Linked DNA regions of Homo sapiens. The protein of the gene in region 2 purifies or fractionates together with the protein of the main gene of each other region. This does not show direct contact. Each region holds a gene or a part of one and is shown on either strand. Other genes may lie near its edges.

Region 1 (4,330 bases), on a different chromosome or scaffold from region 2:
AACACTCCCCAGCCCAGGAGCCTCGGCCCACACAAACTCTCTCACGCATACACGAACACACACGTGCCCCTGCTGAACACACATCCCCGAGGCGCCCCTACCATGGCCCTGAGGTCCACGAAGGAGATGGTGGTACAGTTAAAGAGCTCTGGGGGCAGCCAGCCCTTCTCCCCGCTGCAGTGTCGGACCGCATTTCCTGGGGAAGGAGAGCAGGTGTGCAAAGCCTGAAACTCAAACTGTTGATCAATGCTTGTGTATTTCAATCCACAATCTGAATATACTTAAACCCAGAACACTGCGTGGTGGTTAGAACCCCATGGGGGCCAGGAGGTCGACACCAGCGCCCCTCTTTCATGTCAGGGCCACGGCCGAAGCTGCTCTGACACTGACAACCAGGCGTTTCGGGAGCCCAGCCAACAGGAGCCAGCACTTCCGAGCAAGTCCGTGAGGAAAGAAATCAGCAACACCATCTGCCGGCAGCCACGATCCCATGCACCAGGAATCCATTTCGGCTGGGCCTTTCCTTGCCTCACTGGATTTTCCAGACGCCCCTCACAGAGTGGACACAGTCAATGTCCCCATTTCACAGAGGTAACCCGATGCTATGAACAGTGAAGCCACTTGTCCCGGTGCCCCAGCCTGAGCGGCAGAGCAGGGACTGGCCGGGCCTGACTGGCGGGCGTCCCCACACGCGCTGCACTGTTCATGTTTCTGTTGCGCCCTCTGCCTGCTTTGTGTATTTCCTGGTAGGGAAAAGGCGATCGGATTTCTCCCCAGCACTTTGCCTGCGGATATTTTTTCAACACGAAACATTCCATGAGTCCCCACATCTCGACTGGCTCCTCCCACAAGGACGCCTGCCTCAGTTCCCTACACACAGGCCACGGCGACTCACCAACGGATCCCTTAGGGCATGGCACCGCAGCCGGCTGCCCGAACTTGGTCTGTGGCCACCAGATGCCGGCCTCAAATGCTTTGGGACAGCCATTGTAGATCACTGGGGTAGAGAAGAGAGAAGTCTGCTCAGCGGGGCACGCCACACCCACGACCACAAACAGGCACCACTGTCTGCATGCGCCTCCCTGCAGGAGGCCCTGCTCCCACCAAGAACCGAACCCTAGCATCTCCCCTGCCCCCATCCATGTCAGAGCTGGAGAGGGGTGACCAGGCTCTGACCCACACCCCCTCACGCAGAACCAGGTTTCTAGAAGGTCAAGAGAACTCAGAACACGAGGGAGCCCAGGGTCCCCCAAACACCCAGCGTGCATGCACACACGTGCACGCCAGTGCAGCAGCCTGTCCCCGCGCTGTAACCTGCAGGGTGTCGAGGGGCAACGCGGACCTTCACAGCCGAGCGTGGTGACCTCGGCAAACGGGTTGTCGCAGCGGTTGCACTGGCGGCCGATGACGCCGGGCTTGCAGGCACACTGCCCGGTGGCCATGTCGCAAGTGCGGCTGTGGGAGCCATGGGGGAAGCAGTCGCAGGGCAGACAGGTGTCCTGGGCTAGGAGCTTGTAGTAATTCTCCTGCAAAAGCCAGAGGCAGGGCCTGTGACTTCAGATGCCCGGGAGAGGCCCTACCTTGCAGCGTGTTTCCCGAGCGACGTCCAGACTCCCACCCGGGTGTGTGTGTTGGCCGCCAGCCATCCCACCCCTCATGGCTACCCTCTGCCCACATCCCACACCCAACGGGGGCTGCCTCCCAAGGCCCCACAAGGCCGGACCCAGGAGAGCAGTTCTTCCGGGAAGCACGCCCTCCCTCATGTCTTAACAAGTCTCAACAGTGGGCACCTTCGTATTTGTCCTAAAAAGAATCAGAGATCCAAATGGAGGCTTACGTATGGGGATAGCCCTTGGGCGTTTTTTTAAAGTTGTTTTGAAAAATTAGAAGCCACCTGAACGTCCACCATTGGGTGGGTCAGGGTGACAATCAAGAGCTTGTACTTCGGGTTCAGAAAGTCCTGGGTTCATGCCTGACCCTTGCCGTTTACCAGCTACATTGCCTGGGCTGGTCACCGGGACTCCCCAGGCCCAAGTAGCACCCCCTCAACCCCGCCCCGGAAAACGGGGCAGGCTGTGACCAGGCTGTGACTTGGGCAGACTCGTGAGCAACGTTCAGACCTGTGTGTCAGGTGGGGACTCCGACTGTGTGTAAAATGACAGTGAACGACAGGCCCAGAAGAGATGCTAAAACACTAACAATCACAGCTGGGAGGCGCATGGGGTGACTGCGATCTTTATGGGTTTTTATTACATTTTGTATAACTTTGTTTTTTTATTTTTTTGAGATGGGGTCTCACTGTGTTGCCCAGTCTGGAGTGCAGTGGTGCAGTCACAGCTCACTGCAGCCTCAACCTCCAGGGCTCAAGTGATCCTCCCACCTCAGCCTCCTGAGTAGCTGGGATCACAGGCAAGCATCAGCACGCTCAGCTAATGTTTTTATTTTTTGTAGAAATGGGAGTCTCACTATGTTGCCCAGGCTGGTCTTGAACTCCTGGGCTCAAGTAATCCCTCCTGCCTCGGCCTCCAGAGTAGCTGTGATTACAGGCATGAGCCACCACGCCCTGCCTATAACTTTGGATGAGAAAAAAATCGTAGGCAAGTTTTCGCCAATGCACTCCCCATGTTCTCTCTGCTCTGCCACCCACTATGCCACCACCGCCATCTGGTGACGTGTGGACCGACCCTGACCCAGGAGAGCTGTTTAATTTGAGCCTTTCAGGACACAAGTCCCATTTGCTGTTGGAACCACCGCAGGCACTGGGGGGGGACACTACTGACATCACGAGATGGCATCCAAGGGTGCCCTGGTACCAGCTTCCCTCCTAGGGCCAGCCGCATCTGCAGGAAGCTCACGTCCCTCGCCCAGGCTCCTGTTACCCTCAGACCTAACATTTGGGTTTCAAGTCACTGTGAGCGCCATGGCCGTGGTGTACACGAAGATCCTGAAGGAGGTGATGTATCCTGAGAGGGCTGGGGAGGGGTCCCTAGAGTCTGCACTGAGAACGCGTGTGCATTTCTGGAGACACGAGATGTGAGCTCCGTGCTGCATGCAGGTTAGGACTGACCGCCCTGGACAGGCGTGGGGCATAACGCACTTAGTGACACTTTCTATTTTAAAACTGCTGTCATCATGGGACACCAGCTTGGTAAAGACCAGGAAAATGGCCAGGCACGGTGGCTCACGCCTGTAATCCCAGCACTCTGGGAGGCTGAGGCGGGCGGATCACCTGAGGTCAGGAGTTCAAGACCAGCCTGGCCAACATGGTGAAATCCTGTCTCTACTAAAAATACAAAAATTAGCTGGGCATGGTGGTGGGCGCCTATAATCCCAGCTACTCAGGAGGCTGAGGCAGAAGAATTGCTGGAACCCGGGAGGCGGAGGCTGCAGTGAGCCGAGATCGCACCACTGCACTCCAGCCTGGGCGACACAGCGAGACTCTGTCTCAAAAAAAAAAAAAAAAAGACCAGGAAAATGGCCAACCAGGAGGCCAGGAGGGCCGGGGTGGTGCCATAGATGAGCCAGCCCTCAGAAACGGGTGGGCTTCCCACAGCCATGGGCAGTAGGCCGGGAGGAGGCAGGGATTCCTGTTCCACGGGCGGGGGCTGGCAGGGCTGAACCCGTAGTTTACACGTGGAAAGCAGCCATGGAGTATTCACAGAGCACGGGGGAGCAGCAAGGAAACCAAAAACCACATCTGTACACAAATGTGATGTGAGTGGGCACAGGTGTGTGTGCAGGGGTGTGAGTGTGTACCGACAGGGTATGTGAAGGCGTGTGTGTATTTAGGGGCAGCTGTGCATGTGTGTGAGCAAACACAGCATGCAGGGATCATGGGGGCGGGGCCTCACCTTGCATTGGCACTGGCCGTTGGTCTTATTACAGTCGGGATCAAAGCCTTTGCTGACGGCACAGTGGCAGGGTCCACAGACGGGGTTCCCCCACCAGCCTCTGGGGCACGGAAGGTCGAGTCTGTGGGGAAAATAAGAGGGCAGCTGGAAGGTTTATGTAACTGTGCTTTCTGGAATGAGAAGAGGCCTGCAGGCAGCATGGAGATGGTTGCCCAGGAGGCCTGGCTGGGTCCAGCTCTGGGAGCTTCCCCTTCCACGTTACATGGCCTCAGTCTCCCCTCTACCGGCTCCCAACCTCACCCCCCACCCACAGATCCACCATGCCCAAAGCGACTGGGATGACATCTCTGTCCACCGTGTGCCCCACGTCCACATGATGCCTGACTCATTGGGGCTTAATGACAATGAACCCCCACTGCAAGGCTGGCCTTTCACGATGCAGCCCCAGGCAGACTGAGCTCAGCTGCCTGGCACAACTT
Region 2 (5,161 bases):
AAATGAACAGAATTTTAGTTTAATTAAAGGGAAGAGCATCCTAAGTGAAATACGCAAATGAGGGGAAATATAAGAAGTCATGGATTTTTACTGTATTTAAAGTTTTAAATTAAAGGATTAAAAAAACTTCCAACCTTGCTTGAGTAAGCAATCAGGTTTATTTAAAATCAGCAGGTAAACTACAGAAAGGAACAGGAATAGTAAACAGTGGCAACAGTGTCCATTCATGGTCCGTTCGGGGCTCTCCATTTTGGCCAATTCCTGGCTGTACTTGGCTCCTGGAGAGCGTGCAGGGGGCGGGGGGCAGGCAACGTCTCTACACAGAGCTGCTGCCACATGGCTGGGAAGGACTCAGATCCGGTACATCCACTGATCTGCCGCCAAGTGTGAACCCTGAGGTCAGAACAACTGAACTTGGATGAGGAGGGGGATACCTGTGTACTGTAGTATCAGGTTTATGAGTACCTACAAATTCAAATCATTTTGCATCCTTCAATACATTTAATTTCCTCAATAAACCTGTGAGAATCATTGGTAGCTCAATTTTACAGGTGAGAAAACTGAGGCTCAGAGAAATAGCTTGCCCCAAAATACATATTTTAATGAGTAAAAGAGAAAAAAGTGAAAAAAAGAAAAGGAAAAAAGAGAAATACCAAACGCAAGTCAAATACAAGTCTGTTTGTAAAATCTAAACATGTTGCATTAAATTTTAGGTTATTATTTTTCAATAACAACAAAATCCCAAAATACTTTGTAAAATACACAGATTTTTTTAAAAGCCTTATAATAGTGAACAATAGCTACATTTCCCCCCAGAATCTATGCAAACAAGAAAACAATGAAATGACATATTTTAAAATATTTTAGGGCCAGGCACGGTGGCTCACACCTGTAATCCCAGCACTTTGGGAGGATTATCTGAGGTCAGGAGTTCAAGATCAGCCATGACCAACATAGAGAAACCCCATCTCTACTAAAAATACAAAATTATCTGGGCATGGTGGCGCATGCCTGTAATCCCAGCTACTCGGGAGGCTGAAGCAGGAGAATCGCTTAAACCCGGGAGGCGGAGGTTGCGGTGAGCCGAGATCGCGCCACTGCACTCCAGCCTGGGCAACAAAGCGAGACTCTGTCTCAAAGAAAGAAAAAAAAATTAAAAACTGTCATGGAAAGTTCTATATAGAGCCAAAATATACTTCAACAATGAAGATAAATACAGAGTTTTTCAGACAAATAAAAGCAGAGAGACTATGTTTCCAGCAGACCTGTAAGATGTATGAAAGCAGTTCTTCATGTGGAAAGAAAATATACCACATGGAAATCTGAGTCAACACAAAGAATACAGAGTGCTGAAAATATATTAGTAACAACTGAACATATTCTCTTATGTTAAAATTTCCTTGACAGACTATTTAAAGCAAAAACAGCTAACAATATATCGTGGGGTTTATAATATACAGAGAAGTAAAAGGTATGCCCACAACCAGTTTGAAGACTGGAAGGGGATGAATGGAAACACTATATTAAACATGAAATGATATAATATTTTTGGAAAATAGAAGGTTTACACTATAAAGCCTAGAGTAGGTTTTTTAACCTCAGCACTACTGATATTGTGGGCTGGAGGATTCTTTGCTGTGAGAAGCTGTCCTGTGCATTGTAGGATGTTTAGCATTCTCCCTGGGCTCTACCCACTAGATGATAGTAGCACATCCTCCAAGCTGTGACAACCCAAAATGCCTCCGGACATAGCCAAATGTCCCTTGGCACAGACAAATGTCCTTAGCCAGAGCAAAACTGTCCCAGTTAAGAACCACTGTGTTAGACTGAACAACAACAAAAAATTTAAAATATCAGAAATAAAGGAGGGAACACCATCCTTTAAGACATCAAAAAATATTATGAACAATCCAATTTTATGCCAATAAATTCAGCAACTTAAATGAAATAAACAAATTTCTTAAAATACAAATTACCAAAACAGACACAGGAGTAAACAGAACATCTATATAGCCCTACATCTATTAAAGATACTGAATTCACAATTCAAAACCTTTCCACAAAGAAAACTCAACACTGTTTGGTGAATTCTATCAAACTTGAAAGAAAATATAAATCTGTATTAGTTTTCTAGGGCTACCATAATAACATACCACAAACGAGTAGTTTAAACAACAGAAATTTATTGTCCCACTGCTCTGATAGCTAGAAGTCCAAATCAATGTGTCAGCGTGGCTGTGCTTCCCCGGAAACCTGTAGGGGGAATCTTTCCTTGCCTATTCCCAGCTTCCTGTGGTTGCCGGAAGCCCCTGGTGTGTCTTGGTTTGCAGCTGCAGCCCTGCAGTCCCTGCCTCTATCTTCACGTGACATTTTCTCCTCATGTGTGTGTCTCTTTTCTTAGGGTGGATTAGAGCTCATACTCATTGAGTATGACCTCATCTTAACGTTACATCTGCAATGACCCTATTTCCAAATAAGGTCACATTCTGAGGTACTGGGGGTTAGGGCTTCAACCATTTTTTTTTTTTTTTTGGTGGAGACGCAGGACACAATTCAACCCATTACACACCCAACCCTACGTAAACTTTCAGAACACAGAGGAAGGAATATATCTCATTCACTTTGACAGCAGCATTACCCTAAATACCAAAAACAGGTGGTCAGCCTTTTGGAACCTATTATCTTTTTCATTAACAGTGATCATTAACATGGAGCAAAGTCCAGCCTTGAAGTCTATGCTCTGGGAGGAGGGGGCAGGCGACAGATGGAGAAGCGTGTATAGTTTCAAAATCTCCACAGAGTCTTGGAGGCTACTGAAATTTCCCTTACACCTACTGGGACATTCTATTCTGCTTAAAAATGGAAAAATGATTTCAAATTAATAAAAGTTAAAGGATGGTGCCTGCTCACAACTAGTTATTTGCCTATCTTTAAAACCTTACTGTATATGAAACTTTTTTCTGAGAAGCAACAAGATCTACATGAAATCTTAATACTGACAGTCATTAGTAAATGCAATGCTTTATTTTTAAAATCGTGTCCAATTTCCATAGAGAAGGTAGTTCCCTGCACAGATGGAACAGAGCCCAAAGAAATGAAACTGGTCGGAAGGGTGCTCCCATCCCTTCCTCCAGAGATGAAATGATCCATTCAAACTAGATTTTGGAAGAAGAAACCATGGGAATTGGTGACAAGTGCATCCTGACTCTTTGTACACAGGGAATAACCCCATCCACTGACATTATAACACCTTCTGACTTTAAGGGACTTTGATATTAAAGTTGGTGGTATTTGAGATCTGGAGTTGAATGTAAGTATTACAGCAGCAATGTAGATAAGCTTTTAAAAATTACTCCCTTCCCACTGTTTTGTTCACATTACTGCCCAACATTTACCTAAGGTTTTCATATTACAACTACAACACTAAAAGACGCCATAAAAAAGAACAGTCAAGCCAAAGGGAACAATGCAGTTTCATTTCCTTAAAAACTAACAAAAGTGATTAATTACATGTTGGCAAACCAACCCTTAAAAAAATAATCAAGACAAAATGGCGCAGAGATGATTTGTGGAAAACTTGCTCTCTAAGGTCTTCCGATAACTGAACCATTTAAAATTTAGACAGACTTATTCTATAATTTCCTTCTGTTTGACGTCGGTGGAAAGGGGGCAATAAGAAGGTCATGCTGTTCTTTCCAGAGTTTTACGAAAGATTGTGGCTATCTCCATTTAAAGAACATTTAGATAATTATAATGTTATTCTATTCATCTTATTCCTCTCCCCAGAACATGTTATTTTACAGCTTCTATATATAAGATGTAAAACAGTTTTTCCACTAAAACATATATGAATGTGACTTGTCAAAAAGTATGTAAGTAAAATTCCTTTTTTCTTTTAGTGCAGCATTAACTAAAGATGGAGCTACTGAATTAAGACATTTCCAGTGATTACTTCAGGAACTTACAATGCAAGGCTCACTTCAGTAAACTATAAACTGAAAGGAAAATAATTCCATTCAATTGTAAATTATCTTATCTGACCACAGTGGAAGCATCATCAGGTGGTCCATGGCTAGGCCTTTCTGTTCATATTAGAAACCTAATATCCCTTTCTCACATAAAGACATGGCTGCAGATTACCAAAGTGCAATTAAATGAACCTGGGTTAAGTGTTTTATAAGAAGGAGAAGAATTATCTGGGGTGCTTGCTAAAAAGTCCAGTTCCTCTGTCCTATCTTAATAATTCTGAAGCCTGGATCACATTATTTTATTTAATTAATTATTTATTTGCATTTTTAGCAGAAATGGGGTTTTACCATGTTGGCCAGGCTGGTCTCGAACTCCTGGTTTCAAGTGATCCACCAGCCGTGGCCTCCCAAAGTGCTGGAATTATAGGCATGAGCCACCATGACAGGCCTGGATCACATCCCTTTAAACAAAAGTCCTTGGTGGGTCTTAAGATTGGGTAAATTTAGCAAGTAGTCCTAGATTTGTTAGCTGCAGTGATCAGACAGTAAAGACAGTTTTCATTTATTTTTATTGTAGTACAGCTGACACATAAGAAATTGCACATAAAGTATTCCACTGGATAAGTTCTGATATACATAAACACTCCTGAAACCACTGCCACAACCAAGATAAGGAGCATATCTATCACTTCCAAATGATTCTGTTTTGATCCTTTCCTTCCACCCCTCCCTACCACCAGCACTACCATCCCCAAGTACCCACTAATTTGCTTTCTGTCACTAGATAGTTGGCGTTTTCTAGAATTATATAAATAGAATTATTCAAGCTGTATACTGTTTTCCTAGCTTCTTTTACTCAGAATGATTCTGAGATTCATCTGTGATGTAGCATGTACCAACAGTTCATTCCTTTTTATTTAGTAGTATAGCTCGTTATATGAATACTGCAGTTTACCCATTTACCTGTTGATAAGCATTTGAATTATGTTCAGCCTTAGCTATTAAAAATAAAGCTGCTATGAACATCTGCGTAGTGTTGGTAAGAACATGTTTTCATTTATCTAAGAGCAAAATGACTGAATATGGTACATACATATTTAACATTTTAAGAAATTGCCAAGCTGTTTCCCAAAGTTTGGAAATATCCCATTTTACATTCCTGCCAGCAGTGTAAAAGAGCTCTTGTTCTTTCA

What was found. Proteins that work in one complex are often made in the same cells at the same time.
Region 1: the proteins of RYK (region 2) and CELSR1 purify together in Homo sapiens (affinity purification with mass spectrometry; 2 studies listed by BioGRID and IntAct, with this or other methods). This does not show direct contact.

Annotation. Positions count from the first base shown.
Region 1 is NC_000022.11:46,390,291-46,394,620, forward strand, and holds part of CELSR1 (cadherin EGF LAG seven-pass G-type receptor 1 isoform 1 precursor), read right to left. Parts: intron 3,973-4,330; coding exon 3,852-3,972; intron 1,527-3,851; coding exon 1,343-1,526; intron 998-1,342; coding exon 896-997; intron 786-895; coding exon of another isoform or gene 553-785; exon of another isoform or gene 238-552; intron 197-237; coding exon 102-196; intron 1-101. UniProt on the Homo sapiens protein: Receptor that may have an important role in cell/cell signaling during nervous system formation.
Region 2 is NC_000003.12:134,159,719-134,164,879, forward strand, and holds part of RYK (tyrosine-protein kinase RYK isoform 2 precursor), read right to left. Parts: intron 1-5,161. UniProt on the Homo sapiens protein: May be a coreceptor along with FZD8 of Wnt proteins, such as WNT1, WNT3, WNT3A and WNT5A. Involved in neuron differentiation, axon guidance, corpus callosum establishment and neurite outgrowth.